Homo sapiens: one gene and its partners. Each later gene encodes a partner of the first gene's protein in a complex. Each region holds a gene or a part of one and is shown on either strand. Other genes may lie near its edges.

Region 1 (7,564 bases):
CCAAGTAGCCAGGACTACAAAGGCGTGCCACCATGTCCAACTAATTTTTGTATTTGTAGTGGAGACGGGGTTTTGCCATGTTGTCCAGGCTGGTCTCAAACTCCTGGGCCCAAGCAATCCACCCTCCTTGGCTTCCCAAAGTGTTGGGATTACAGGCGTGAGGCACCATGCCTGTCCGACATGTTACGTTTTAAGATGCCTATTCAAGATCTAAGTGGAGATGTTGACTAGGCACTTGGATATACAAAGCTGGAATTCAGACAAGGAAGTTTGGGCTAGAGAGGAAAAGTTGGGAGTTATCAGTATGTATATGTTTATATATTTGTGATTTTTTTTTTTTTTTTTTTTTTTTTTTTTGAGATAGAGTTTTGCTCTTGTTGCCCAGGCTGGAGTGCAGTGCCTTGAATACTGAATTAGTGAATATTGAACCATTGCTCCTAGGGGAAATACAGGGTTAGGTTCCTGCAAGCCTCTGGTCATATTTTGTTCAACCAATCAATATATAACCGATCACTTGTTTTATGTGTGTATCTGTTTGGAGACAACTTACTTGACATAATATTGTTGAATCATTAACAGTGAAGTCAGCCAGGCGCAGTGGCTCACGCCTGTAATCCCAGCACTTTGGGAGGCCGAGGCGGGCGGATCATGAAGTCAGGAGATCAAGACCATCCTGGCTAACACAGTGAAACCCCGTCTCTACTAAAAATACAAAAAATTAGCCAGGCATGGTGGCAGGCGCCTGTAGTCCCAGCTACTCGGGAGGCTGAGGCAGGAGAATGGCGTGAACCTGGGAAGTGGAGCTTGCAGTGAGCCGAGATCGCGCCACTGCACTCCAGCCTGGGCGACAGCAAGACTCTGTCTCAAAAAAAAAAAAAAAAAAAAAACTCAGGGCCAACAGCACTATAATTCGTGTCTGAATGAAGCTTATCTAACACCTCCCATAGTTCTTGCACTTAGCAACACTAGAAAGCACTTCAGTACTACACGTGGGGACCCAAGAAAATGTACAAAAATGAAAAAAATGTGGCACTAACTGCATCACGAGAAAGCCTTGTTTAGTGTGTGTCAAGCAACTCAATATTCTTGCCACTCTTAATTTTGATTTGAAAGTACCACAAATACTGATTTGGGGGTTACAGATAAATTTTAGTGAGTAGGCAGATTCACAGATAAAGACTGAACAGTGAAGACTATTTGCATTGAGTGTATATTTTATGTTATGTTATGTTATTTTTGAGATGGAGTCTCACTCTGTCACCCAGGCTGGGGTGCAGTGGCGTGATCTTGGCTCACTGCAACCTCTGCCTCCCGGGTTCAAATGATTCTTGTTCCTCAGCCTCCCGAGTAGCTGGGACTACAGGCATGCACCATCACGCCCGGCTAATTTTTGTATTTTTAGTAGAAACAGGGTTTCACCATGTTGACCAGGCTGGTCTTGAACTCCTGACCTCAGGTGATCCACCCGTCTCGGCCTCCCAAAGTGCTGGAATTACAGACGTGAGCCACCACGCCTGGCCTGAGTGTATTTATTTTACATATTTATATTTGAACTGAAACTTTTATGAACCATTTTATTTAATGCATTCTGATATTTTATATTATTTCATTTTAATTTTTTTCCAAACAAAACTTCTCACATATTTATTATTGAACCAACCTACTATTGTAGAGCTTATAATCAGAGAAAAACCATTTTCTCAACAAAGTATGTCCACCTTTCCAGATAGTGGTGACAGTTTCAGCTTGATGTGATAAGATGATAGTCTTACGTGTAGACTCATCTCATGTGTAATTCCTGGCAGACCCAGCTTGGTTCTTCTCCAGTCCCTCCTCTTGGGGTTGTAGCTAACTGTATTAGCAATTTTGTTTTATTTTGTTTTGTTTTGTTTTTTTGAGATGGAGTCTCACTCTGTCATCCAGGCTGGAGTGCAGTGGCACAATCTCAGCTCACTGCAACCTCCGCCGCCCAGATTCAAGCGATTCTCCTGCCTTAGCCTCCCAAGTAGCTGGGACTACAGGCGCCTGCCACCACGCCTGGCTAATTTTTTGTATTTTTAGTAGAGATGGGGTTTCACCATGTTAACCAGGATGGTCTCGATCTTCTGACTTTGTGATCTGCCCGTCTTGGCCTCCCAAAGTGCTGGGATTACAGCTGTGAGCCACCACGCCCAGCCCTGTATTACCAGTTTTAATCTGAATCCACTGGTGAATGGGACGATTTTGCTTTTGTTTCTTGGCCAGGAATTGCATGATCCTGGACATTTTGTGAGAAGATGGTGGGAGAAATAATCAACAGCACACACCATGATGGTGGAGAAGGGGTGGGGGGAAGCAGGTAGAGGAACATGTTTTTCTGTTTCTTTCATTTTTGAAAAGCTGGGGCTGAGCGTGGTGGCTCACGCCTGTAATCCCAACACTTTGGGAGGCCGAGGCGGGGAATCACTTGAGGTCAGGAGTTCGAGACCAGCCTGGCCAATATGGTGAAACCCCATCTTTACTAAAAACACAAAAATTAGCTGGGCGTGATGGCATGCGCCTGTAATCTCAGCTACTCGGGAGGTTGAGACAGGAGAATCGCTTGAACCCGGGAAGTGGAGGTTGCAGTGAGCCGAGATTATGCCATTGCACTCCAGCCTGGGCAACAAGAGGGGAACTCTGGAAAAAAAAAAAAAAAAGGTGGTCACAGGCTATAATGGACTACAGCTGGCTGTTTGAAAAACATAGTGGAGGTGACAAAGCCATGAGATTGGATGTGATAGATTACTTCTGGAGGGAAAGAGCCATCATTCTTCCCAGGGCAGACTCAGGTGCAGAAAGAAGCCTGTGTGTGAAGAGTTAAAAAGCCAAAGTGTGGGGTGAGGGGACTGGCCTCCTCACGCCTCGGCAGGGCCAGGCCTCCTGCCAATGCTTATGGGCCCGGATCTCCTCCCAGGTGACCATCTTGGTGCTGCAGGGCCGGCTGGATGAGGCCCGACAGATGCTCTCCAAGGAAGCCGATGCCAGCCCCGCCTCTGCAGGCATATGCCGAATCATGGGGGACCTGATGAGGACAATGCCCATTCTTAGTGTACGTGGGGGTAGCTTTGCTCTGCTGGGTCACAGGAGATGCGTGATTCACTAAATATAAAGGGTGTGGATGGGATGACGTCTCATGGCTGGTCTCTCCCTTAGCCCGGGAACACCCAGACACTGACAGAGCTGGAGCTGAAGTGGCAGCACTGGCACGAGGAATGTGAGCGGTACCTCCAGGACAGCACATTCGCCACCAGCCCTCACCTGGAGTCTCTCTTGAAGGTCTGGGAAGCAGTTCAGATTGCATCCATGTTGGCTTCCTATGGGGGCTGTGGCATCCAGTGCAGCAGTGGCAGGAGCTTGGTCCTCCTTGGATAGGGCTGTCTGTCGCTCTGCCGTGATGGCGAGAGCTTTCAGACTAGTTGAAATCCGGTGCCCTTAGCTGAGAGCAGGAGCATTATGGAGAAGGTACCCCTGAGAGGAGGACAGAGTTCAGCACAAATGTCTCTCCTCAGATTATGCTGGGAGACGAAGCTGCCTTGTTAGAGCAGAAGGAACTTCTGAGTAATTGGTATCATTTCCTAGTGACTCGGCTCTTGTACTCCAATCCCACAGTAAAACCCATTGATCTGCACTACTATGCCCAGGTGAGTGAGCTCGGGGTGGGCAAGGGTGGGGGTAGGAGTCCTGGGGGCGCCCTGATGGGTCATTCTCTTTGAATTCCTCCCTGAGGAACAGGAAGACCCTTTCCTTTGGCCCTTAGTGAAAGAACAAGGCACCTTCTCTGGGGTTCGTTATACAGCAGCCCTGCCTGCCCCGAGTCTCTGCTTCCGTCCTCAGGATTGAGTGTCTCATCACCTTTCCACAGTCCAGCCTGGACCTGTTTCTGGGAGGTGAGAGCAGCCCAGAACCCCTGGACAACATCTTGTTGGCAGCCTTTGAGTTTGACATCCATCAAGTAATCAAAGAGTGCAGGTAGGATCTCTCCCACCCCCCACTGTAACCATTTTTAGGTGTACAAATATCACCACCTTGCGTTTCTAGAGTGGCCTGTTCCTTCCTTACCCTTCTTCCCTCAGACCTGCTATCTTAGTCCATCTCACGCTGATATTACAGAATACCTGAGACCAGATAATTTATAAAGAAAAAGATTATTTTCTCACCGTTCTGGAGGCTAGGAAGTCCAGGATCAGGGCACTGGCAATGTTGCTGGTGAGGGCTGCTCTCTGCTTCCAACATGGCACCTTGAACACTGTGTTCTCATGTGGTGGAAGGGCAAGAAGGACAAACTCCCTTCATCAAGTCGCTTTATAAGGGCACCCAATCACATTCATGAGGGAGGATGTGGCCTAATCACCTCCTGGCCTAATCACCTCTTAGAGGCCCTACCTCTTAATACTATCACATTGGCAAAACTGGGGTTTTAGAGGGGATCCCTTCAAACCATAGCATCTGCTCCCCTGCTTGACTTGCCACAGGTAGATAATGGCTTTTCTCTGGGTGAGCTTAGGGACTTCCTGGAGGCTTGAGGGCTACCATATACATAACTGTTTCCATTTCAGGGATGTTCATTTAAAATAACATCGCGGGAAACTACTTTGACATTTAAAATCTAGAAAAAGCCAGCAAGCCTGTTTCTTGGCACCTAATGGACACCTTATGGGATGGCGTGTTCCAAGAGTCTCACTCCAGTGACGTGAGCTACCGAACCACTGGGCTTCAGGCTGGGTATTATTCAGAATTTCCAGCCCTCTATCCAAAAGAGGGTGTTCTATGATTGCACTGAATCTTTAGCAAGGCAGGAAAGGGAGTGCCAAACATAATCAATCAAAGGTAAACCTTTCCAGAACTCTCCATATATGGTAAGTCAGAAAGAAGGTCCCCTTCCTTGTTGTGCACCCTGGATGGTGGGCATTGCACTGAAGACGTGCTGGGAAGGGAGGAAGTGGGTAATGGCAGAAGATGGCCTTGATCAGGTGTCAGATTCACTGACCTCAACTGGCTGTTTGTAGATCTGGGCATGGGAAGAGTTTCCTTCGCCCTACCTGCTTTTCTTGTTTTGGCCAAAAGAATGCCAGGGCTTCAAGAAAATGATACTAGATTTGGGGAATGAAAAACAAGTTTTTTGTGTGTTTGTTTCTGGGTTTTTTTTTTTTTTTTTTTTTTTTTTGAGACAGAGTTTTGCTCTTGTCACCCAGACTGGAGTGCAGTGGCGTGATCTTGGCTCACTGCAACCTCCACCTACTGGGTTCCAGCAATTCTACTGCCTCAGTCTCCCAAGTAGCTGGGATTACAGGTGTCCGTCACCACGCCCAGCAAATTTTTGTGTTTTTCAATAGAGACAGGGTTTCACCATGTTGCCTAGGCAGGCTGGTCTGGAACTCCTGACCTCAGGTCATCTGCCCATCTCGGCCTCCCAAAGTGCTGGGATTACAGGCGTGAGCCACCGCGCCCTGCCAAGTTTTTTTTTTTTGAAACAGGGTCTCACTTTGTCACCCGGGCTGGAGTGCAGTGGAGTGATCTCAGCTCACTGCAGCCTTGACCTCCTGGGTTCAAGTGATCCTCTTGCCTCAGCCTTCCAGGTAGCTAGGACTACAAGTGTGCGCCACCATGCCTGGCTAATTATTATTTTTTTTTTTGGAGAGATGAGGTTTCACTATGTTGCCCAAGCTGTTCTTGAACTTGTGAGCTCAAGCGATCTGCCTGTCTTGGCCTCCCACAGTGCTAGGATTACAGGCGTAAGCCACCATGCCCGGCCTGAAAGTCAAGTTTTGTGTCAATATTTTCACAGGCCTGTAAACATTGTGAGAAGTCCCTGCATGGAAGAATTAGTGAGAATAACTTAAAAACACACAAACACACCATCGTTTGGCTTTGTTGGTGTCTCTGCCCATAGTTGAGTATTCTAAATTTCCTGTGTTATAACAGTGAGTGAGTTTCACCAGGGCTTCCTAATTTATAAGCCCTGTATCTGGATTTTTAGGAATAAAACAGATTTGAGCAGAAGAAGTCTGTTGGATGCAGGGAGTATAAAAGGGGAAAGCATCCTGCTGTTTCCAGTGGCAGAAGAGAAAGAGAAGTACCATGAAGAGGGGTGAACAACATCACTCTCGTGCCGGACACAGACAAGGAATGATTAGGCTTGCAGTCCCCCAGTCTCAGCCTCTCTCCACTCTCACAAGCAGGAAGGGATCTGAGCTCTGTTAGTGGGAAATCTTGGAGTTTGCATTTCTCTGATCACGAGGCTACCTCCTATCCTGTTTTGAAAGAGGAACAGAAAAGCAGAGCTTGTCCCAGGAATTGTGAAATGGGCTGCAATGTCTTCAGAGGCAGTAGCAGTTTTAGGAAGTGTGCCCTCCTGGCTCTGGGGAAAGGTTGAATTGGGGTCTTGTGGGCACTTGTTTTCTCATGGGATGTATCAGTCAGACCCATGCACAGTTCTGGGCGGCAGGGAAGTGTGTCTCTTTCTGGACTTGAGCCAGTGAGCTGTTGGCATGCCTTTTTAAAGGCATTAGAAAAAAGGTTTCTTTCTTTTTTTTCCTTTCCTGTTCACACCACCTTCATATGAACATGGAGAAGGGAGGTTTCTAAGTGGGCCCCTGATTTACTCCTATGTCAATAATCGTGCCAGACCCTAAGGGGCAGAAAAGGCAGCCAGGGGATCCTGACTCAGAGGCTGTAGTTCGTCAGCCCTGCTAAAGGGCCAGGGGTTTGTCTCTCAGTGCCTGGGTGGGCATGCTTGACTGCTAACCCCTTAGCTGAAAGGAGATGGCAGGAGTCCTCCACAGGGTCCCTTCTTCCCTCCTGGCTTACAGCTTCCTCTGAAGACGGGCCAGTTCCTTGCTGTCTGGCAAGAGGAAACAGCTGGGGTGCACTTCACTGGGAGTTGGGCAAGATGTCGGCAGTTTCCTGGTGCCCTTCAAGTCCTCCAAAAGTATCGAGCTAAAAGGTGACAAGTCTTCCTTCAATAACCAAGAAGAGTTCCAGCTTAATGTCTGCTGAATCTAGAATCTTCTGACTTGTATTTTGGCCCAGCCCACAATCTTGGATGCAGGGTGCAGCAGTGTTTACAAACCTCACACCCCATTTCCAGAATAGCAGGTAGAGGCACTGGAGCTTTGATTACTCCAGAGCCCCCAACAAGCAAGATGGGGCCTGGGTAAGGAGTTGACAGTGACCTTAGTACAGGACAAACAGCTCATTTGGGGCTACAGTTGCTTAGAGGGGTCACCTTCACCGTAGCTGGTCTTCCCAACTCCGCAGCGTTCTCTCGTTTTCAGCAGAGGGCTACTTTGGAGCTGATAATTAGGCCTTTCTTGCCTTGAATGTTAAGGATGCCCACCTGCTCTGTGTCTCGGCTGCTCACTCAGAATCCTTCAGAGTGAGAGAGAGACAGAGTGAGAGTGGGAGTGTGTGCGTGTGTGATCTAAGACCTAACTGTGTGGTTCAGGCCTGCTGGGCCCTGTAGAGAGACCGTGGTGGCTTTGTGCAGCACTATGTCTGGTCTCCGTCACTTGAGTTGTGTTGTTAGTTCTCTGCTCTCAGTGCT
Region 2 (7,564 bases), on another chromosome or scaffold:
TTTTATCCAAACTCTGCAGGCAAATCCAGACAGAGTCTCAGCAAGACTGAAAACCAGGGACCAAACCAAACTCTGGGAGCTTCCCACAGACATGTCACATGTGACCAAGGGTTCCTGCACATAGTAGTAGCAAAGGTATGGTGTTCATGGAACTCTAAAGGCAGGAACAAAAACAGCCCTGAAGATCAATCCCTCCGTGACAGGCATTCACTTCTGCCCTAAGTGTGTCAGAAAGATCCCATTTTGTTTCCTAACTCAGGCCAACCCTCCTTTGCCTCCAAAATTCAGTGTTAACTAACCAATTACTTAAGAGACGGATCCCTCTTCCTTCTGTGGATAGTTCATCTGTTAAGGATCCATTATCACCTGTCTCACTCCTCCTAAGGAGTCCTAGTATAAAAGGGCCAGGGTAGGAGTAGGGAAGCTGGTTGGCATGGAGGGTCACAAGATCCAGAATGGCTAGGGATGGAAAAAGAATACCCTGGTTCTTTGGGGGATTCTGCCAAAGGAGCTTTATTGACCATTTTTTTAAAGGAAAAACACTGAATGATCTTGAGGATGGTAAACTGTCTCCTCTTCTGGGTTCCAGAAGCCCTTATGCTACGTTCAGTATTAAGAAAAGCCCTGAACAAGTGGAGGATGCTGCTTCTGGCAGCAGGGAGGGAGGGTAGATGCCACAGCCAACCCAGAGAATGGCAAACAGTGCCAATCCAAACAAGGCAGGGAACCTCTGTGTGGTGTGAATGGGCATGTGACTGTGATGCAAAGTGCCTGGGGCTCACAGGCTCCCAACAGCCAGTTCTCGCAGATAGGACTGGGTAAGGCTGCGCAGTTCGTCCATGGCATAGTCCTCAGGCATGGGAAGCCGGCCAATGTGGGGAGCCAAGAGGCGCAAAGGGACTCGCTGAGGGTCTGGTGTTGAGTCGGAGGTTCTATCAGGAGGATGATGCAGACTCAGCACCACGCGCAGCAGGTTGGCTACACGTTTGGCCATGTCTAGAGAGAAAAACTAGAGTCAAGCACTGAGCATGGGGTCTGGAGAAGGGTGGTAGGCACTGAGGGTGGGGTGTAATAATCATAAAAACAGGAAGCAAGAAGGCAGAAAGAGTGAGGAGGTTAGAGGCTTACCTGACTGAGCCAGGCGATCTTTAGCACTGTAACACTGAATCTGCTCTATCCGACTGCACAGTGAAGTCACTTTGATGTGTAACTGCTCCAGGTCATTACCTGAGCAATCCACCTACAAAGAAGCAGAGAAGCCAATTAATCCAAGGGGAGTTCCTATCACTCCAATCCCACCTATAGACTCTACACAAAACCTTGAAACAACAGTGAGGTGAGGGAGGGGAAAATCCAAGATGATGACACAGGGCCAAGCCACCACCATCTAGTGGAGGACAAGGCACTAATTATGCAGTAATAGCCAAGAGGAAGGTAACACAGTTACCTAGCCTTGGACTAGGAAAAGTCTTGAGATCCCGAACTATACAGCAAGCTTTAATAACACAGCACCAAAAATCAAGATAAATTGGGTTCAGAGAGATGGTATGACTTCTAAAGAGCACACAAGGAAGTAAAAAATGCAGCCAGAACCAACATTTAATTTAGGTCCCCTGACTCCAAGTTTATAGCCTTTTCTAAAACACCAAAAAAGCTGTGTGCAGGGGGCAGGAGGATCAAGAGCAAGACAGGTTATTTGCTCTCATGAAACTGATAGAAAATAAATAAGAAAACACAAAACAGTAATAAATCCTGAAAAATCACAAGCCATGTAGATAATTTAAACAGGTGGATGTGGCAGAGAGAAACTGGATAGCTACTTGAGACTGGAGGACCAAGAGAGGCTTCTTTAAGGAGGTCATATTTAAATTGAGACCTGAATAACAAGGAGAGAGCTCAGCTTTCCAGGCAAAGAGAAGACAGCTAAAACCCCCAAAGGTGGGAATTCAAAGGAGATTTACATGGTGACATGTAGGGTAAGGAGAAGAAGCAGAACAAGATAATACTAGAGAGTTTTTATGTAACATAGGTTTTTTTTTTTTTTTTTTGGGAGAAGGGGGGTCTCGTTATGTTGCTCAGGCTGGTCTCAAGCAATCCTCCTGCCTCAGCCTCCCAAAGTACTAGGATTACAGTCATGCACCACCACATCCAGCTATGTGCTGGCACATTGATAGTACCCTTTGCTTAATCCCTATACTTATCAAGCTATAGTAATTGCTGCTTTACTTGTATGTATCTCCCCCACAAAATCATTATTTTGGTAAGGGCAGAACACATACTGTTTACCTTTATATTCCCCAAACCCACTACAGTGCTTGGCATACAGTGAGTTCTCCATAATAGGTTGTGTGAATGAATTACTCAATATTCAATGAGAAAGTGGTTTCTTCAAGTGATTATTTAGAAATGATGTTCTTGATTCATACTAAAAGTACAGCAAACATTGAATTATGTCTATTATGTGCCAGGCACTGTACTAGGAGTTGGAACTTTGATGAGGATAATAATAGATAACAATTATTAAGCATTTAGTAGAGGCCGAGGTCAGGAGTTTGAGACCAGCCTGGCCAACATGGTGAAACCCCGTCTCTACTAAAATACACACACACACACACAAAGCTGGGTGTGGTGGCACACGCCTGTAATCCCAGCTACTGGGGAGGCTGAGGCAGGAGAATTGTTTGAAGCTGGGAGATGCAGTGAGCTGAGATTGTGCCACTGCCCTCCAGCCTGGGTGACAGAGTAAAACTCTGCCTAAAAAAAAAAAAAAAAAGGCATTTAGTACATGAAAGGTACTATGTAAAACACTTCATGTAGATTTTGTTTAATCTTTGTGAAAATCTGTCAATATGAACTATAATCTGTACTACTGTCTACCCCACCCACCTTTTTCTTTCAGACGAGAGAGGTAGTTAACTTGCTCAAGATTACATAGCCAGTGAATTTGGAAGCCACAAATTGAATCTATAAGTCTGCTTCCAGAACTTGAGCTGTTAACCTCTACACTCTATTGCCTGTAACCGTAAAAGACCTTCCCAAAAGGGGCTTATAGCAACCTGAAAATATGAATAAGTAACTACAATATGGTCTGACAGGTGCACTAGTAGAATAATGTACTAAGTATCTTGGTAGTAAGAAAGTGCAATTAATTATCTCTGGGGAAAAGCAGAGAGAAGTAGGGGTAACAGCAACCTAGATCTTAAAAGGATGAGTTTAAGTGTGCTAGGTAGTGTGGAACATAATATGGTTTGTTAGAAACACCAGAAGTAATTTAGTGTGAGTACAGCAGGCTAGCAAGGCTGGAACGTGGAATAAGAGTGGTAGGAGTAAGGCAGGAAAGGTAAAAGCCTCTAAAAGGACTTGAATCCTATATTTATTATAATGAGTTTGGTTTTTGCACCATAAGCAAGCAGTGGAGACTCATTTTACGACTACAAAGACTGACCTTAAGGCTGCGTGCAGGCGTGCGGTAAGCTCATGCCTGTAATCCCAGCAATTTGGGAGGCCAAGGTGGGCCGATCACTTGAGGCCAGGAATTCAAGACCAGCCTGGCCAATGTGGTGAAACACTATCTCTACTAAAAATACAAAAGTTAGCTGCGTGTGGTGGCACACACCCTATACTCCCAGCTACTTGGGAGGCTGGGGCATGAGACTCACTTAAGACTGGGAGGCAGAGGTTGCAGTGAGCCACGATCACACCACTGCACTCCAGCCTGGATGACAGAGCAAGACTCTGTTCCAAAAAAAAAAAAAAAAAAAAAACTGACCGAAGACATTGACTTTAAAACCCATATTTGCAATTTTAAAACATGCCAAATGATGTGTAAAACAGCTATCCTCACCCTCACCAAATCTCCATTCTTATTTTATCTCTCATCTTTGGGCTTCTCACTCAAACTAGGACTGAACAAGGGGAAGAGACTGTCTATGGACAAGCCTCAGGAATGTCTATTGCACATACTAGTTGGTAATCAACATAAAATAGCATTTTTAAGTTTCGATATAGCTGTCAGAAACGGTTATATCAAATGAGCCTCAGCAAGATGCCTGCTTTGACAGTGCTATCTCTGTCAGTGCATTCTCAAGTGTATACTAAGGCCTTGTGAGGTATCTGAAGATTTAAGGGCCTGAGAAAAGGAAAATCAGGCAGCAGTTTCAGGATCTCAGGTACCTGCTGTATATGGCGGAGCATTTCAATGACTCTAATATAGTCCAGGTAAACAAGCCCAGATGTTTCCCAATCCTGAATTAGGCTGCTGCGCTCTGGAGGTGCCAGGTCTTCCAAGAACCCCTTCAGGTAGTCATAGTTCTCATTAATGATGGCATCTGAAGAAACAAAGTATTGAGCACAATGTCTGCACAAGTGCATAGTTTCCAAAAGTACAGAAGACATGGCAGGAAGACAGAAAGGAAGGAGAAATAATGTTGGCTGGACTTCAGAAGTAAAAGCACATACAGGCATACCTCAAAGATACTGTGGGTTTCATTTCAGACCACCACAATAAAGCAGGTATCACAATAAAATCACAAATTTTTTGGTTTTCCAGTGGATATAAAAGTTATGTTTACACTATACCACTGTCACTTATTAAGTGTGCAACAGCATTATGTCTAAAAAACCAATATACATACCTTAATTTAAAAATATTTTATTGCTAAAAATGTTAATCACTTGAGCCTTCAGCAAGTCATCTTTCTGGTGGTGGAGGGTCTTTCCTTGATGCTGATGGCTGCTGACTGATCAGGGTGTTGCCTGCTGAAGGTTGTGATGGCTATGCTAATTTCTTAAAATAAGATAACTGAAGTCAGTTCTCTCAAACCCAGCTGCTGCTTTATCAACTAAGCTTAAGTAATATTCCATATCCTTTGCTGGCATTTCAACAATGTTCACAGCATCTTCACCAGGAGTAGATTCCATCTCAAGAAACTGCTTTCTTTGCTTGTCTATAAAGCAAACTCCTCATGAGTGACACCAGTTCAGTCACATCTTCAGGCTCCATTTCTAATTCTAGTTATCTTGCTGTTTCCATCACATCTGCAAGTACTTCCCCCACTAAAGTCTTGAACCCTTCAAACTCATCCATGAGGGCTGGATTCAATGCCTTCCATACTCCTGTTATTTAATGTTGATATTTTGACCTCCTTCCATGAATCACAAATGTTTTTTGTGTATTTTTTTGTTGGGGTCTCACTCTCTCACTCAGGCTGGAGCACAGTGGCACGATCTTGGCTCACTGCAACCTCTGCCTCGCAGGCTCAAGTGATCCTCCCTCCAACCTCAGCCTCCCGAATAGCTGCGACCACAGGTGTGTGCCACCAGGCCCGACTAATTTTTTTGTACTTTTGGTACAGATGGGGTTTCACCATGTTGCCCAACCTAATCTCGAACTACTGAGCTCAAGAGATCCACTCATCTTGGCCCCCCAAAGTGCTGGGATTACAGGTGTAAGCCACCATGCCCGGACCCAAATGTTCTTTTTTGTTTTTCTTTTCTTTAAGACAGGATCTCCCTCTGTCACCCAGGCTGGAGTGCAGTGGTGTGATCATGGCTCACTGCAGCCTCAACCTCCTGGGCTCATGCAGTACTCCTGCCTCAGCCTCCTGAGTAGCTGAAATTACAGGAACATAACACCATGCCTGGCCAATCACAAATGTTCCTCTCCCACCATCCGCCCCAGACAGGGTCTCACGGTGTTGCCCAGGAAGGAGTTCACTGGCATGGTCGTGGCTCACTACAGCCTCAACCTCCCTAGGCTCAGGTGATCCGCCAATCTCAGCCTCCCAAATAGCTGGGAATATAGGCACGCACCACCATGCTCAGCTAATTTTTGTATTTTTTGTAGAGATTGGGTTTCACCATGTTGCCCAGGCTGGTCTCGAACTCCTGGGGCTCAAGCAATCTGCCGCTTTGGCCTCCCAAAGTACTGGGATTACAGGTACGAGCCACCGTGCCTGGCCTACAAATACATCTACAATGGTGAATCCTTTCCAGAAGGTTTTCATTTACTTTCCCAGATCCATCAGAGGAATCGCTATCTATATGGCAGCTATAGTCTTATGAAATGTATTTCTTAAATAATAAGGCTTGAAAGCTGAATTACTCCTTTGCCCATGGGTTGCAGAGTAGATGTGTTAGCAGGCATAAAAACATTAACCTCCTTATACGTCTTCATCAGAACTCTTGGCTGACTAGGTGCATCATCAATGAGCAGTAATATTTTGAAAGAAATTTTTTTTTTTTCTGAGCAGGTTTCAACAGTGGGCTTAAAGTATTCAGTAAACTGAGCTATAAACAGATATGCTGTCATCCAGGCTTTGTTTTTCCGTTTACAGAGCACAGGCAGAGTAGATTCAGCATAATTCTTAAGGGCCCTAGGATTTTTAGAATGGTAAATGAGCTTCTGCTTACCATCACCAGCTGAATTAGCCCTAAAGGGAGAGTTAACTTGTCCTTTGCAGCTTTGAAGCCAGGCATTGACTTCTCTTCTCTAGCTATGAAAGTCCTTGGTGGCATCTTCTTTCAATAGAAGGCAGTTTCATCTACACTGAAAATCTGTTGTTTAGTGTAACCATCTTCATCAATGATCTTAGCTAGATCTTCTGGGTAACTTGCTGTACCTTCTCCATCAGCACTTCCTGCTTCACCTTGCACTTTAATGGAATGGAAAGACAGCTTCTTTCCTTAAACTTCATGAAGCAACTTCTGCTAGCTTCAAACGTTTCTTCTGTAGCTTCCTCACCTCTCTCAGCCTTCACAGAACTGAAGGGAGGTTAGGCTTTTGCTTAAGGGAATGTTGTGGCTGGTTTCATCTATCCAGATCACAAAAACTTTCTCCGCATCAGCCAGAAAGCTGTTTCACTTTCATATCATTTATATGTTCACTGGAGTAGCACTTTAAATTTCCTTCAAGAACTTTCCTTTAACACAACTTGGCTGTTTGGCAAAGAGGCTTATCTTTTGTCCTATCTTGGCTTTCAACATGCTTCTCTCTGTACACCTAATCACTTCAAGCTTTTGTTTAAAGTTAGAGTTGTGCTACCCTTCCTTTCACTTGAACATATTTAGAGGCCATTGTAGGGTTATTAACTGGCCTAATTTCGTGATTATTGGGTCTTAGGAAATAGGAAGGCCCAAAGAGAGGGAAAGAGATGGGGATGACCAGTTGATGGAGCAGCCAGAATATGCACATTTATCAACTGACCATCTTATATGGATGCAGTTGGTGGCACCCCAAAACAAAACAGCAACATCAAAGATTGCTACTCACAGATCACCATAACAGATATAGTAATGAAAAAGTCTGAAATAATGTGAGAACCACCAAAATGTGAAACAGAGACAGACATGAAGTAAACATATGTTGGAAAAATGGTGCTAATATACTTGCTCTGTGCAGTTTTCCAAACCTTTAATTTGTAAAAAATGTAGTACCTGCAAAGTACAACAAAATGAGGTATGCCTGTATTCTGAAATTCTCCAATGGAAAATGTGAAGAATTTCTAGTTTCAGGCCTTAAGGAGATTATTTCTGGTGTTGCTGGAGAAAATTCCCATAAGTAAAC
Region 3 (7,564 bases), on another chromosome or scaffold:
TTATAATAGCAACTAACATTTATTGTAACATAATTAGTATAGTATTTGGTTACGATATCAATAAGCACTAATAATAATGATTGCAGTTATTATTCGTTTGAACTCTTGCCATGTACAAGGTACTGTACTTTCCATAAACACACGGTAACTATGACATGGGTATTGTTGGCCCTGTTTTACCAAAACTGAAAGTGAGACTTAGAGAAGTTAACTAATATATACAATAAGTATGTAAATAGGCTGGATGCAGTGGCCCATGCCTATAATCTCAACACTTTGGGAGGCCAAGGTGGGTGGATCACTTAAGGCCAGGAGTTCAAGACTAGCTTGGCCAACATGGCAAAACCCTATCTCTACTAAAAATACAAAAATTAGCTGGCGTGGTGGCACATGCCTGTAATCCCAGCTACTCCGGAGGGTGAGGCAGGAGAATTGCTTGAACCCGGAAGGCAGAGGTTGCAGTGAGCTGAGATTGTGCCACTGTACTCCAGCTGGGGCGACAGAGCAAAAAAAAAAAAAATCCCAGTTCCATTATTTACATACTCTTTTTTTGTTCTGAGACAGAAAAAAAAGAGTATGTAAATAATGGAACTGGGATTCAAACAATGATCTGTTTACTCCAAAGTTTATGCCCACTACACTGCACTGCCTCAGTATGCCTTATAAAATTAAAATATGAAGAATCCGTTGACTGATTAGTGTCTTTAACTGCTCAGTTATTCTATAATGAAAGCATCTGTAATTGCAGTAAAATGTTTCCTGTTAGGCTCAGTAGTACCTACAGCTCAAATTTAGAAAAATAAGTTAAATCCTTGTATCATGGAAATGTTAACATTTAAAGTATTTATTTGGTTAGAGTCTAAATAATGGAAAACTGAAAAATTTATTCTTCATTGTTTGTTTGCTTACTTTGTTTTGATAATGAATGCTCACGCACTTTAGGTTCTTTCTACCAACCTTTTGTTTATAGTTACCCCAACAAGCCGAAGCTTACTAAGGCAGCCAGATATTTCCTGCATTCTTGGAACAGGAGGGAAGTCGCCCCGACTTACGCAGTCTTCAGGGTTCTTTGGAAATCTCTCCATGGTATGTAGAAAAATAGGGCTAAGAACTCCTTTTGGGTCGAGTGTGGTGGCTCACATCTGTAATCTCAGCACTCCCTGAACTCCTGACCTCAAGTGATTCTCCCGCCTTGGCCTCCCAGAAGTCAGGAGTTTGAGACTAGCCTGCTTAGCATGATAAAACCCTGTCTCTACTAACAATAAAAAAATTAGCTGGGAGTGGTGGCTTATGCCTGTAATCCTAGCTGCTCGGGAGGCTGAGGTGTGAGAATTGCTTGAACCCAGGAGGCAGAGGTTGCAGTGACCTGTGATTGCAAAAGAAAAAAAAAAGAGAAAAAAGAACTTCTCCCTTTTTATAAAAATATGATATTTGATGTAAAAGTCTTTTAACAAATATTGAGTCAGAATCATCATAACAGTAACTTTAGGTTATATGGATTGAAATAATTAGACAGTAAAAAAACTGAAAACCTTATGCATCTGATATCACAGATGGAAACTGTGACACCAGCAACCTTTAGATGAAAATAAGATGTTTTAATCTGTCAGTTTGCTGACCAGAAGAAGTACATGCTGTGGTTGGTTGCTGATGGCTATAAAATCTGATCCCTGTTTTGAAGCATACAAGAGTAGGAATCAGAGGTTAACAGATGAAGAATATCTTAAGGAAGAGATAAAATGTATTAAAGGGGATAAAAGAGAAAATTGGAAAAAGTAGGTGAGATACTCTTTAGGAATCACTATGGAACAGTATTAAAAATAGCAAAAGAAATGTTATGTAAGCTGTGATGCAGAATGACTTCACCTAAGTATTAAAAATACACTATAGTAGCCGGGCATGGTGGCTCACATCTGTAATCCCAGCATTTTGGGAGGCTGAGGCAGGTGGATCACATGAGGCCAGGAATTTGAGACCAGCCTGGCCAACATGGTGAAACCCCATACCTACCAAAAATACAAAAATTAGCCAGGCGTGGTGGCACGTGCCTGTAGTCCCAGCTACTTGGGAGGCTGAAGTGGGAAGATGGCTTGAGCCTGAGAGGCAAAGGTTGCGTTGAGCCATGATCGTGCCACTGAACTCCAGCCTGGGCAACAGATCCAGACCTTATCTCAAGAAGGGAAAAAAAAAAAAAAAGACGCATACATACATATAATTTTTAGAAACCTTATTTGTTTTTAAAGTATCCACTCAGTGACAATAACTCCATCACTTTTCTGTATTTTTACTTTTTTGTTTTTTTTTAAGGTTACTAATCTGGATGACAGTAACTGGGCAGCTGCATTTTCATCACAGCGTTCCGGGCTGTTCACAAACACAGAGCCCCACAGTATAACAGAAGATGTAACTATCAGTGCTGTTATGTTACGTGAGGATGATCCTGGAGAAGCTGGTAAAATGGCATTGAGCTTTGTGACAAGTAGCTTTTCACTTTAGCAAGATGAAGGAAACCATTTCTTCCTGTTTCTGAACGTCATTATGTTTTTCTTTTCTTTCTTTCTGTCTTTTTTTCTTGAGAGAGTAGCTTAAACAACAGATTTTTGTGTGTGTGTTTTTTGAGACAAGAGTCTCACTCTGTTGCCGGGCGCGGTGGCTCATGCCTATAATCCTAGCACTTTGAGAGGCCGAGGCGGGCAGATCACGAGGTCAGGAGTTCAAGACCAGCCTGGCCAACATGGTGAAACCTCGTCTCTACTAAAAATACAAAAATTAGTTGGGTATGGTGGTGCACACCTGTAATCCCAGCTACTTGAGAGGCTGAGGCAGGAGAATCGCTTGAACCCGGGAGGCAGAGTTTGCAGTGAGCTGAGATCGCACCATTGCACTCCAGCCTGGGCTACAGAGCAAGACTCCGTCTAAAAAAAAAAAACAAAAAAAAAAACAGTCACTCTGTCACCCAGGCTAAATGCAGAAATGCAGTGGCACAATCATGGCTCACTGCAGCCTTAACCTCCCAGGCTTAAGCAATTCTGCAGCCTCAGCCTCCTGAATAGTTGGGACTGCAGGCATGTACCACCATGCCTAGCTAATTTTTTTTTTTTTTTTTTGAGATGGAGTCTCGCTCTGTCACCCAGACTGGAGTGGAGTGATGGGATCTTGGTTCACTGCAACCTCCGCCTCCCAGGTTTAAATGATTCTCCTGCCTCAGTCTCCAGAGTAGCTGGGATTATAGGCGTCTGCTACCACACCCGGCTAATTTTTGTATTTTTAGTAGAAACGGGGTTTTGCCATGTTGGCCAGGCTTGTCTCAAACTCCTGACCATGGGTGATCCACCCGCCTTGGCCTCCCAAAGTGCTGGGATTACAGGTGTGAGCCACTGCGCCTGGCCGCCAGCTAATTTTTTATTTATTTATTTATTTATTTATTTTTTTTTTTAGACGGAGTCTCACTCTGTTGCCCAGACTGGAGTGCAGTGGTGCAATCTCGGCTCACTGCAACCTCTACCTGCTGTATTCAAGTGATTCTCCTGCCTCAGTCTCCTGAGTAGCTGAGATTACAGGTGCCCACCACCACGCCTGGCTAATTTTTGTATTTTTAGTAGAGAGAGGTTTCACCATTTTGGCCAGGCTGATCTCGAACTCCTGACCTCAAGTGATCCGTCCTCCTCAGCCTCCCAAAGTCCTGAGATTACAGGCGTAAGCCACTGTGCCCAGCCTAATTTTTTATTTCTTTATAGAGACAGGGTCTACAAAGACCAGCCCAGGCTGGTCTCAAACTCCTGGACACAAGTGATCCTACCGCCTCAGCCTCTCAAAGTGCTGGGATTATAGGCAACAACATAAATTTATTTTCTCACAATTCTGGAGCCTAGATGTCTGAGTTAAAGGTCTTGGCAGGGTTGGTTTTCTCTGAAGCCTCTTCTCTTGGCTTACAGATGGCTGTCTTCCTCCTGTGTCTTCATCTGGTCTTCTGTCTATAATATATTTTTCCTTAAGCTAATTAGTTGTGGTTATGGCAATGGTATTTGATACAGTATCACTAGAAGGTTGAGAACCTCACCTTGGTTCTCAGTCTGAGCAGCATCTTGCCATTTTATCTTTTAATGTAAATAGCAGCCTGTTACGTTATTAGACAAGTCTCATATTGTAATTTTTTTCTTATTTGTGCTGTTGAAAGAGCATCTCTTTCTTTAGGTTTAGTTCTTAATCTAACATTGTTGATGTGTTTTGTTTTCTCCTGGACCGTAATGCTGTTATTTTTTTTCAGATAGTGTTATGACCACTGTACAAGCATTAACTCATGTAATCCTTATGGTGGTCCATTAAATAGTTACAATAATTATTCCCATTTTAGAGAAAAGGAAACTACTGCTCAAAGTGGTTAAGTAACTTACCTCAAACCACCTGGCTAGGAAGTAGTGGTACCAGGATTTGAAACTAAGCAGTTTAGCTCCAGAGCCCTGCTCTTAACACTTTGGTAACTACTACTTTCTTGTAGTATCTGTCAAAAACAGGTACTCGTATTAAGTGACTCAAAATACTTTCTACTTAGGCCAAGTGCCTGTATTTTCCCAGAGTGGAACATGCCATTTAGTATGTATTATAACTTTCTCCACTACTTTGTAATGGTGTGCTTAAAATATAATTCAGATATTTTTAAATCTGGCTCAATTTCTTAAGTAATTGTTTATAAAATAACTAGTATATCTTTGAGATCTTAAAAGACCTTTAGGTATCAAAAGAAAAAATAGATAAATTGGGCTACATCAAAATTTTAAACTTTTGTGCACGAAAGAATACAATCAGCAAAGTGAAAAGGCAACCCACAGAATGAGAGAAAATATTTGCAAATCATATATCTGCTTAGGGGTTAATATCCAAAATGTATAAAAACTGCTACAACTCAACAACAAAAAAACAACCCAATTTAAAAATGAGCAAAGAAATAGAATAGACAGAGGCTGGACGCAGTGGCTGATGCCTGTAATCCCAGCAATTTGGGAGGCTGACGCGGGTGGATCACCTGAGGTTGGGAGTTCGAGACCAGCCTGACCAATGTGGAGAAACCCTCTCCCTACTAAAAATACAAAATTAGCTGGGCATGGTGGCGAATGCCTGTAATCGCAGCTACTCGGGAGACTGAGGCAGGAGACTCGCTTGAGCCCGGGAGGCAGAGGTTGCGGTGAGCTGAGATCATGCCATTGCACCTCCATCCTGGGCAACAAGAGCGAAACTTCATCTCAAAAAAGAAAGAGAGAAAGAAAGAAATAGAATAGACACTGTTCTAAAGAAGATTCACAAATGACCAGTAAGCACATGAAAATATACTCAAATGTCACTAATCATTAGGAAAATCCAAATCAGAACTACAGTGAGTTACAAGATACTGCCTTACACCCGTTAGTGTGGCTACTGAAAAACAAACAAACCAACAACAAGAACAAAAACCCAGAAAATAACAAGTATTGACAACAATGTGGAGAAATTCAAATCCTTGTGCACTATTGGTTGGAATGTAAAATAGTACAGCTGCTATGGAAAACAGTATGGCAGTTCCTCAAAAAATTAAAAATAGAATTACCATATGATCCAGCAAACCTGCCTCTGGGTATATATCCAAAAGATTGGAAAGCAGAGTCTCAAAGAAATATTTGTACATGCATGTTCATAGCATGATTCATAGTAGCCAAAAGGTAGAAGCAAGCCAAGTACCTGTTGATAGATGAATGGGGGAAACAAAATGTGATCTATACATACAGTGGAATATTATTCAGCCAAATATGAAGGACATTCTGACACATGCTACAACATGGATGAACCTTGAGAACATTATGCTAAGTGAAATAAACCAGTCACAAAAGGGCAATACTCTATGGTTCCACTTACATGAGATATTTAGAATAGTCAACACATGTAGGGACAGAAAGTAGATGGATAGTTGTCAGGGGCTGGGGTAAGTGGAGAGTGGGGAGTTAATGTTTATTAAGTACAGAGTTTCAGTATTACAAGATGAAATAGTTCTGTGGATACATAGTGGTGATGGTAGCACAACAATGTGAATGTACTTACTGACACTGAACTATACACTTAAAAATGATTAAGCCAGGGATAGTGGCTCATGCCTTTAATCCTACCACTTTGGGATGCTGAGACAGGAGTTAGCAAGACCCTGTCTCTACAGACTAATAAAAAATTAGCTGGGCATGGTGGCTGGTATATACCTATAGTCCCAGCTACTGGGGAGGCTGAGGTGGGAGGATCACTTGAACCTAGGAGTTTGAGGCTATAGTGAGCCATGATTGCACCACTGTACTCCAGCCTAGGTGACAGAGCAAGATCCCCCTCTCTTAAAAAAAAAAAAAAGAAAAATGATTAAGATAAATTTTATATTATGTGTATCTTGCCAATTAAAAAAAATTTTGAGGCTGGGTGCGGTGGCTCACGCTTATAATCCCAACACTTTGGGAGGCCAAGGTGGGCGGATCATGAGGTCAGGAAATCAAGACCATCCTGGCTAACACAGTGAAACCTCGTCTCTACTAAAAATACAACAAGTTGGCTGGGCATGGTGGCACGCACCTGTAGTCCCAGCTACTTGAGAGGCTGAGGCAGGAGCACCGCTTGAACCTGGGAGGTGGAGGTTGCAGTGAGCTGAGATTGCGCCACTGCACTCCAGCCTGGGTGACAGAGTGAGACTCTGTCTCAATTTTTTTTTTTTTAATATAGCAGTGAATTTATAAAAGACTTGTAGCCATTTAAATTTTCAAACAGGCTGGGTGCGGTGGCTCACGCCTGTAATGCCAGCACTTTGGGAGGCTGAGGCGAGCAGATCACCTGAGGTCAGGAGTTTGAGACCAGCCTGGCCAATATGGTGAAACCCCATCTCTACTAAAAATACAAAAATTAGCTGGGCATGGTGGTACATGCCTGTAATCCCAGCTAGTTGGGAGGGTGAGGCAGGAGGATCACTTGAACCTGGGAGGTGGAGGTTGCAGTGAGCTGAGACCGTGCCATTGCACTCCACCCTGGACAACAAGAGTGAAACTCCATCTCAAAAAATAAATAAACAAATAAATACATTTTCAAACAAACGGAATTACCTAGAAGTACGTCACTTAACTTTTCTTTATTCCTTTTTTTTTTTTTGATGTGTTCTAGCATCCATGAGTATGTTTTCTGATTTCCTGCAGTCTTTTCTGAAGCACTCTTCGAGTACAGTTTTTGATCTTGTGGAAGAGTATGAAAACATCTGTGGTAGTCAGGTAAGCTAATTTCACTCCGTCGTTAGTCAAACTTCAGTATTTTTAGTTTTCATAAACAGCATTAACCTAATTTTCATAGTGTTTAAGGGAGGTGTCTTAGGGGAACAGTGGCAGGAGTGGAGGGAAAGTCAACTAGAGCATCCCTGCGTCTTACATATTGAGGGCCCATACAAGATTTCTTTGGGAGAAAAAAGGATTCTGCTGCTTTAAAAAAGGAAAATCCAGCCAGATGCAATGGCTCACACCTGTAATCCCAATGCTTTGGGAGGCCAAAGCAGAAGGATCACTTAAACCCAGCAGTT
Region 4 (7,564 bases), on another chromosome or scaffold:
TGGTGCAAACAACTTTAGTGCTGTTTGATGTTGACACATGCTAATAGGTAAAAATGTCAGCTTTAAGACCTAGAATGTCAAAGTGTAGGGAGAGATTTGTAAATTATTATTTGTCAGGGTATAAGGAGAGATTTGGGTTTAGGGTAGAATGGGACTTACTTTCAGCACAGTGGGAAAGATAGTATTTTGAGATTTTTAATGGCCTTAATGGATAGGTGAATGTAAGTGTTTATTTGGTAGTTTTAATTTTTGTAATTTCGTAAGGGATTTTTAAGCATTAGAATTCCAAGTAGGGATAGGAACTATGCAGTGACAGGATAGAATGTATAAAAGCAGTTAATAGGCCTGCTAAGTCTAGCTTTCTCAATCTTGCAGTCCTCTTTGGCTCTCTTTTCCCACTGTTTTTTTTGTTTTTTTTTTTTTTTGGTTACCCAGATTTGATCTTCCTTTATAATGTCTGTTCCATTTGTAACCATTGACTATCTTGGTTTGGGACCTTATTTCATACCTGGAGCTTCCTAAATGATTTCTTACTAGTTCACCTTGTACACTACCACTGAATTTAGATAGTTTAAAAATTCTTTCACCATTGCTCATAAATTGTTCATTGCTCATAAACCATAACTCCTCATTGTATACTACTTAAAGTTCAGATTCCTTTGCTTTCTACTGAATGTTCTCTACACTTTTGCCACCAACTACTTTTTTCATTTGCTAACTGCTTTCTTCCTCCTGAACTCTTCTAATTAAGGTGGAATTCACCTCCTAATTCAGGTGAGCAGTTTACCTCACCTGAACTTTTCTAATTCAGGTGAGGTAAACTGCTCTGTTCATTGTCCTTCGAACCTATTCGTTTCAGTGTTTCTTTTAATACCAGTCATCCTTCCCAAATACCCTACTGCTCCTCTTCATCTATCCTTCAAGGAACAGTTTGAATCTTTCCAAATAAGACTTCTCTAGTCAGTAATATGTCTCCTTCCTTATTATTAGTAACAAAATCTCTTTTTTCTCTAAACTCAGGGTCCTTAGCCCTATCATTTACCTGGTAACTAATCATGGAAAGACTGATGATAATTCTTGTTTTAATGTTTTATCTCTTCTATCATGTAACTGTTTAATATTTATGCCACGCCTTTTTCTCATTTTGATTGTTAATCCCTTCAGAACAAATAACAATCAAATTATCTGTGCAATAAGTTAGTGCATTTTATATAGTAAAATCTGTAAACACTTGTTGGTTACTTTGTCATATAAAAAATGCAATTTATAAATGAAAAAACTTATGCATACTTAATTTCAGTAGTGAAGAACAATTACACTATCACTGCTATTTTAAAGAGGTAAAACATGCAAAAAAGTTATATTTTATTAATGTGTTGTCATCTCTTAAGATGTAAAAACTTAATAATTAGAAATTCTTTTGTAAAGAGTGCTTTATAATTTGCTTTTCCTTTTTAATCCAAAAGGTGGCAATGAGAGCCTTGGGGTTTGATGTAAAAAAAGCTGATGTACTGAAGATTCTTAAAGATTATGACAGAGAAGCCACAGGGAAAATCACCTTTGAAGATTTTAATGAAGTTGGTGTGTATTTTAATAGTCTTTGTAATCAGCAGCTGTTAGGAAATTGTCTGATTAATATCACTTTTTAAATTTTAAATTCTCTAGGTTATGGAATTTTCTTATAGAACACTGGTGTATAATGTGACTCTTACTCAGTTTTGTTTTGTTGGTTTTTTTTTCAAAGAAAAAATATGGCTTTGCTCTGAGATTTATAGTTTTGTCTTTTGTTTTGTTGTGAAGATTCTAACCAAGGAACTATTGTGTAGCTTTTTATAGAAAGATGCTTTTCCAAGTTGTTTGTATTTATATTATGTGATAAAACTTGAAGGGTGATCAAAAAATTATTTTTGCTTAATAAAACAGAAAATTTGATATCCTGCTGTTTGGAAAATGTTTCCCAAGACCTTTCTGGTATGTGATTTTTGTTGGCTAAGTGGGAGAAGAGGGAACTGGTAGTAGTTGGTATCTTTGGCTGTAGATGAAATGCACGACTTCAGGTTGACAAAGTTTATGAGAGGCTACATCCTCTGGATGACCTTGATCTCAGTGGATAAAGTCATCTGTTTAGAGGGTAGTAGTAAAGGAGGCAGTGGGCATACTGGAAGCAGGAGAAAACATCCTAGTACCACCAACTGAAGATAATGTGTCATAGGCTTAATATGGCTAAATTTTTTTATAGTTGATTTTAGTGAATTATTTATAGCATATATAGACCAGGCTTTTTCAAAATAGAAGAGTCCGGAAGGCAAGGATGTTGCTATTATAACTTAAATGTATTGTCTAGAATATTATCTACAAAATATGTAAATATTCAGGTTTATTTCTTTTTTTTTTTTTCTCTAAACCAATGGGTCACGATATAAGCACATCATATAAGTATTTTAAGATATTTTAAAAATTTGGAAACAAATTCTGCTATATACACAAACCCCTTATTTTAAATATTAATCAAGAAGCAATAGGGGAAGCAAAAAGAAATGGCAATTAGTAGACGCAGAGAAAATTTAGATTCATGTCATTAGTCAGTTTTTTAAATCCAAAAGCTCAAGTCATAAGCAGTTGAGATGGAAAATAAATGATGAACCTAAGAGAAAAAAAACACAGCACAGAAGATCCTCAACTTATGAACTAATATATGACTGTTTAGAGAGGCAACTTGTCCATTGGGGACATTTTCCTTTTTTCCTCTAATTTGTAGAATTAATTATTTGAGGAAAGGGAGAGAGCCACCTTTTGTTCTCCCAGAATGGACACTCTCCTGAAGTTTATGATCGTAGTATTCCTAGTTTTACCTTAGATTGTTTATTTGTAGAAACAAGGTGTTTGTATATAGTGGAAATGGTACTATTAGGAAGGAGCTATAATCCAGGTATGTTTAGTACAGTATAGTGGTTTAGCACTTGGAACCAGATTCCCTTGGTTCATACCTTGGTTTTGCCACTTTACAGCTCTGGAACTTGGTCTTTTTAATACCCCATGCCTCATTTTCAACTATAAAGTGGGGATCATTGTATTCTCTCATGAGATTCTTCTAAGGATTAAGTTAATGATATGTGAAGTACCTAGAAAAGGGCCTAGCATGTTGTAAGTGCTACTAAGCATTTGCTATTATTATTACTTTAAAAAATTGTCTTTGTTTCAGGGGCTCGAAATAATCATATATGCATCACTGGGACATAAAATAGACTTTGTGTATATTTTTTATTGACTTTTTTCATAAAGGCTATTGTAAGCACTGTATCATCACTAATAATTTTACAAAATATGTTATTTCACCTTAAATGAACACAATTTAAAAATTGTGATTTTTTTTTTTTTTTTTTTTTTTTTCTTTTGAGACAGAGTCTCGCTCTGTCGCCCAGGCTGGAGTGCAGTGGCGGGATCTCGGCTCACTGCAAGCTCCGCCTCCCGGGTTCACGCCATTCTCCTGCCTCAGCCTCCCAAGTAGCTGGGACTACAGGCGCCCGCCACTACGCCCGGCTAATTTTTTGTATTTTTAGTAGAGACGGGGTTTCACCGTTTTAGCCGGGATGGTCTCGATCTCCTGACCTCGTGATCCGCCCGCCTCGGCCTCCCAAAGTGCTGGGATTACAGGCGTGAGCCACCGCGCCCGGCCAAAAATTGTGATTTTTATTGGCAGTTGGGACCAGAATCCCATGCCACCTCCACTTTTTCCTGACACCCCATCTGTTCTATGTTATTAACAGAGCAGAAATACTGGGTTCCTTCTAGAATAAATAGATGTGGCTAAACTTCAGCTTTGACACTAAAAGATTAACCTTTTGACAGGGTCAACATGTATCTTAGCTATCTTAAGGCTACCTATGGAGAGTACCAGGTGTCAAATAAAAATGTATTACTGTTTGGGAATCATTCAGGAACTATGTATTACCCCTTTTGTTGATTATTTTTAACTAATCACTGACCACAGATTAATATGTTTTATACTTTGGGACAGATGATTCTAAATCATAACATTTGAGTCCTAGTTTTATGAACTACCCAAGGACACTGTTCCACAGATATATCTGGATGAAGTTTGGCAGTTAACTATTATAGACTCTTCCTAGTACTGGAAAAAAGCTTTAAAATATATTTAATTTAAGTTTAGAGTCAAGACAGCCTGAGGCTAGTGAGTAACATAGATATTTTAGGAATTAGTGTCTTTAAGACTAACATAAGTCAAACGTTTGTACACTATTTTTGACATGTACTACTTATTATTGCTGATTGAGATTGTAATACTGTATTATTGTCTTCATTTTGCTTATTTAACACTGAATTTTTTGGTATTAGGTACTGTACTGGGGTTGGGAAGAAGACTTAATTAAAAGTTACTAAAAGGTTCTTCTTTCAGGGAGTTTACAATGTAAATATAGGTGACAACAGGCTATAGTACTATGTGGTAAATTGTAATTTTGTCTAGGACAGAAGTCAGCAACTATAGCCTTTGGACCAAATTCAGCTGCTGCTTGTACACCACCACACCCCTTCTTTTATGCAGCTTTTGTGCTACTATGGCAGAGTGAGTAGTTAGAGACTTTATGGCCCTCTACAAAGCCTAAAATATTTACTATTGGCCTTTTACAGGAAAGATTTGTTAATCCCTGATCTAGAGGAATTGAAGTCTTTGCAGAGGAGATTTTAAATTTAGGCCTTTGGAAATGTGAGTAAGATTTCATTCCAAGATTGCCAGGAAGAGTAGAGAAAAAGCATTCTAGGCTTAGAAAGCAGCAACAACAAAGAATGGTACTAGACGGATAGCATGTTTGGGAAACTAGGTAGTGTTCTGGGCTAGACATAGGGAAATGACTGGAAACATAGGATTGGGCCAGATTGGTAAAGTCTTGCAAAACATGAAGATTTTGAATTCTAGTCAGCAGAGATCATTCACAATTTTTAAGGGAAGGGGATATGATATGTTTGAGAAAGAAAACTGATGAGAGTATTATTGATGATGAGTTGGAAGGAAGAGAGACTGCAGACAGAAAATACTATTTTTTTCGCTGAGGATGGCGAGGGTGAAAAGAAAATACATTTAAGAATAAAAAAGAGGCTGGGCTTGGTGGCTCATGCCTGTAATCCCAGCACTTTGGGAGGTCAAGGCGGGAGGATTGCTCGCTCACAGGAGTTTGAGACCAGCTGGGGCAACAAAGTGAGATCCTGTCTCTACAAAAAAATTTTAAAAAATTAGCCAGACATGATGGCACATGCCTGTAGTCCCAGCTACTTTGGAGGTTGAGGTGGGAAGATTGCTTGAGCCCAGGAGTTGAGGCTGCAGTAAGCTGGGATCACGCCATTGCACTCCAGCCTGGGCAACAGAGCGAGACCTTGTTTTAAAACAATAAATAAATTAGAAAAAAAACAGTATTCTCAGTACTATAGGACCTGATTAAGTTTGTGGGACTGAAAATGATTTATGCTTTTCAAATATGGAATCTAGCTGTAAATGTTGCTGTTATCTTTTGGTTGGGGTAGGGGAGGCAGCTGCAGTTACTATGGTGGTAGTGGAATGAGTTTGGAGTCCAACATGTCTAACTGGTATGTTTGGATAGAAATTTCCGAAAGACATTGAGAAATACAGTTAAAGCTGTATTTCTAGCATTACCTATAATAATTTTTAATTTACTTTTGATGTGATGTTTTTGGATTTGCCGTATTCTTAAGTGATTTTTACACATTAAAGGTCTAAGAAAGTATTTTGATGAAGTACATTTCTGATAGTATGTGTAATTAAATCATTTGAAAATACAGTTGCATGGACAGAAATTTGGAGTTTTGTGAAATAAATGAAACCCACCTTAACTGCCTCTATATCAGTTTACTAATATTTTCATTGAAAATAAATATATTCCTTATAATTAAATTCTACTTTGTGGAACAAGAATAGAACCTGAAGGCATGGAGGAGAGTCATTATAAAGTTATATATTAGGTAATGTTTTTGCTGTCCAAAATGATGAGCATTTATAATTCCCAAGAAAAGCTGCATTTTAAGGAAGAATATTGATAAAAGAATATATAGACACATAGCTCTGAAATAACTAACACAATTAAAGTACCAGTGGGATAAGAATTTATACATCTTGGAGCCCCATCTGTTCCCCAATCACCCTGTTGCTTCTTTAAGTACATTAATACTTTCAGCAAGCTGCTTTTTTGGTTCACCTGTCATGTAAATTATTTAATTGGTGAAGAAAATTTCTTAACACTTTTTTTCCTTGTCCTGCTTTTTTGTTGGGACTAAATTCAAAATAAGTTGAGTATGTGCCATAGAGTTAAGTGTGGTATTTTATTTTGGTGTTATGGCTGTAGATATGCCAGCTTCTTTTTGACTGAATATTTATGAGCTTTGATGATTTGCATACTTACAGTAATATACTTCAATTAGTTACTTGGAAGCCTTTTTGGATAAAATTAATGGATAAAAGGAAACTATTGAAAATATGTGTAGATGATATAATAGTCATTTGAATAGGTGATTATTGAACCAAATACGGGTGAAACAGCAGCAAAACAACAGCTTGTTGGAGACTTCGATTGTATTTTTTTCATTCTGGGTTCCTTAAACATTCCAGTATTTTCCATCTATAAGCAGTTGCTTTTTTTTTTTTTTTTAATGATTCTGTAACCTTCAACAGGACCGAGTTATTTTTAATAGCATAGTAAAGGCCATAAATACCTTTTCTTGTAGTGGCAGATAGTGTATATAATTACTTCAGAGATACTTATTTAGATACTGTTAGAATTTTATTTAGTAACTTACCAATTTTTATGCCATAGATTTTTATTTTAATTTTTATTGTGGCTATTGATTAAAGACTGGTAAAATTGAAAATACTTAAGCTTATTACTATGTTATTACATGTGATTATATTTAGTGTATTAAAATACACAATTACCATTGAGGTTTGAAACTACATTTATTTTTAGTTAGTTGTCTGAGAGTGATTTATCCAAACAAAATGGGTAAGCTTTAAGGAGACCTTCTTTGCAGAGGTTTTTTTTGGGTGGGCTTTCCTGCTATAGTCAGATTTGATCCTATTTACTACTTTGTAAATTTTGGAAAACCAAGAGGTTCTTCTAATCACAAAGGTATTAGTGGAATTTTCAAATGCTGTCTGAGATTGTGCCTGTGTCTGCGATGGCAGTACTTTTTGTCTCTTGCAGTTTTTCTTGTTTTGAAGTTGGATTAAATTTGAGGAAGAATCAGTGTTAGTATGACGTTTAGTCAGCAAGCAGCTTTTATTTAGTTAGCTCCAATTATTTTGTTGGTATGTCTCTCCACAGGTAGATGACACACTCCTTGTGTGCTTGATGTCAGTGGAGCCTAGTACAATTCTTGATAATAGTAGATCTTAAATAAATATGGTATAAATGTAGTCCTTTTTATTTTGCCTCTGTGTGATATAGTTTTGCTTACTTTTATAATAAGACAAGTTGCTCATGATAAAAAAGGTTAACATTTAAAATATGGATTTGATTTTTCTAATTTCAGGTTTATC

The links.
Region 2: NUP85 (region 1) and NUP98 share a complex: the UniProt entries of both Homo sapiens proteins name them as parts of the nuclear pore complex.
Region 3: NUP85 (region 1) and NUP107 share a complex: the UniProt entries of both Homo sapiens proteins name them as parts of the nuclear pore complex.
Region 4: NUP85 (region 1) and CETN3 share a complex: the UniProt entries of both Homo sapiens proteins name them as parts of the nuclear pore complex.

Annotation. Positions count from the first base shown.
Region 1 is NC_000017.11:75,222,168-75,229,731, forward strand, and holds part of NUP85 (nuclear pore complex protein Nup85), read left to right. Parts: intron 1-2,935; coding exon 2,936-3,070; intron 3,071-3,174; coding exon 3,175-3,297; intron 3,298-3,530; coding exon 3,531-3,662; intron 3,663-3,855; coding exon of another isoform or gene 3,856-3,883; coding exon 3,884-3,990; exon of another isoform or gene 3,991-3,991; intron 3,992-4,577; exon of another isoform or gene 4,578-5,998; coding exon of another isoform or gene 5,999-6,113; exon of another isoform or gene 6,114-6,964; intron 6,965-7,564. UniProt on the Homo sapiens protein: Essential component of the nuclear pore complex (NPC) that seems to be required for NPC assembly and maintenance. As part of the NPC Nup107-160 subcomplex plays a role in RNA export and in tethering NUP96/Nup98 and NUP153 to the nucleus.
Region 2 is NC_000011.10:3,675,381-3,682,944, forward strand, and holds part of NUP98 (nuclear pore complex protein Nup98-Nup96 isoform 1 precursor), read right to left. Parts: intron 4,329-7,564; coding exon 4,174-4,328; intron 1,241-4,173; coding exon 1,129-1,240; intron 997-1,128; coding exon 779-996; 3' UTR 1-778. UniProt on the Homo sapiens protein: Plays a role in the nuclear pore complex (NPC) assembly and/or maintenance. NUP98 and NUP96 are involved in the bidirectional transport across the NPC. May anchor NUP153 and TPR to the NPC.
Region 3 is NC_000012.12:68,689,661-68,697,224, forward strand, and holds part of NUP107 (nuclear pore complex protein Nup107), read left to right. Parts: intron 1-942; coding exon of another isoform or gene 943-970; coding exon 971-1,086; intron 1,087-2,307; coding exon 2,308-2,452; intron 2,453-7,158; coding exon 7,159-7,262; intron 7,263-7,564. UniProt on the Homo sapiens protein: Plays a role in the nuclear pore complex (NPC) assembly and/or maintenance. Required for the assembly of peripheral proteins into the NPC. May anchor NUP62 to the NPC. Involved in nephrogenesis.
Region 4 is NC_000005.10:90,399,702-90,407,265, reverse strand, and holds part of CETN3 (centrin-3), read left to right. Parts: intron 1-1,466; coding exon 1,467-1,581; intron 1,582-7,564. UniProt on the Homo sapiens protein: Plays a fundamental role in microtubule-organizing center structure and function. As a component of the TREX-2 complex, involved in the export of mRNAs to the cytoplasm through the nuclear pores.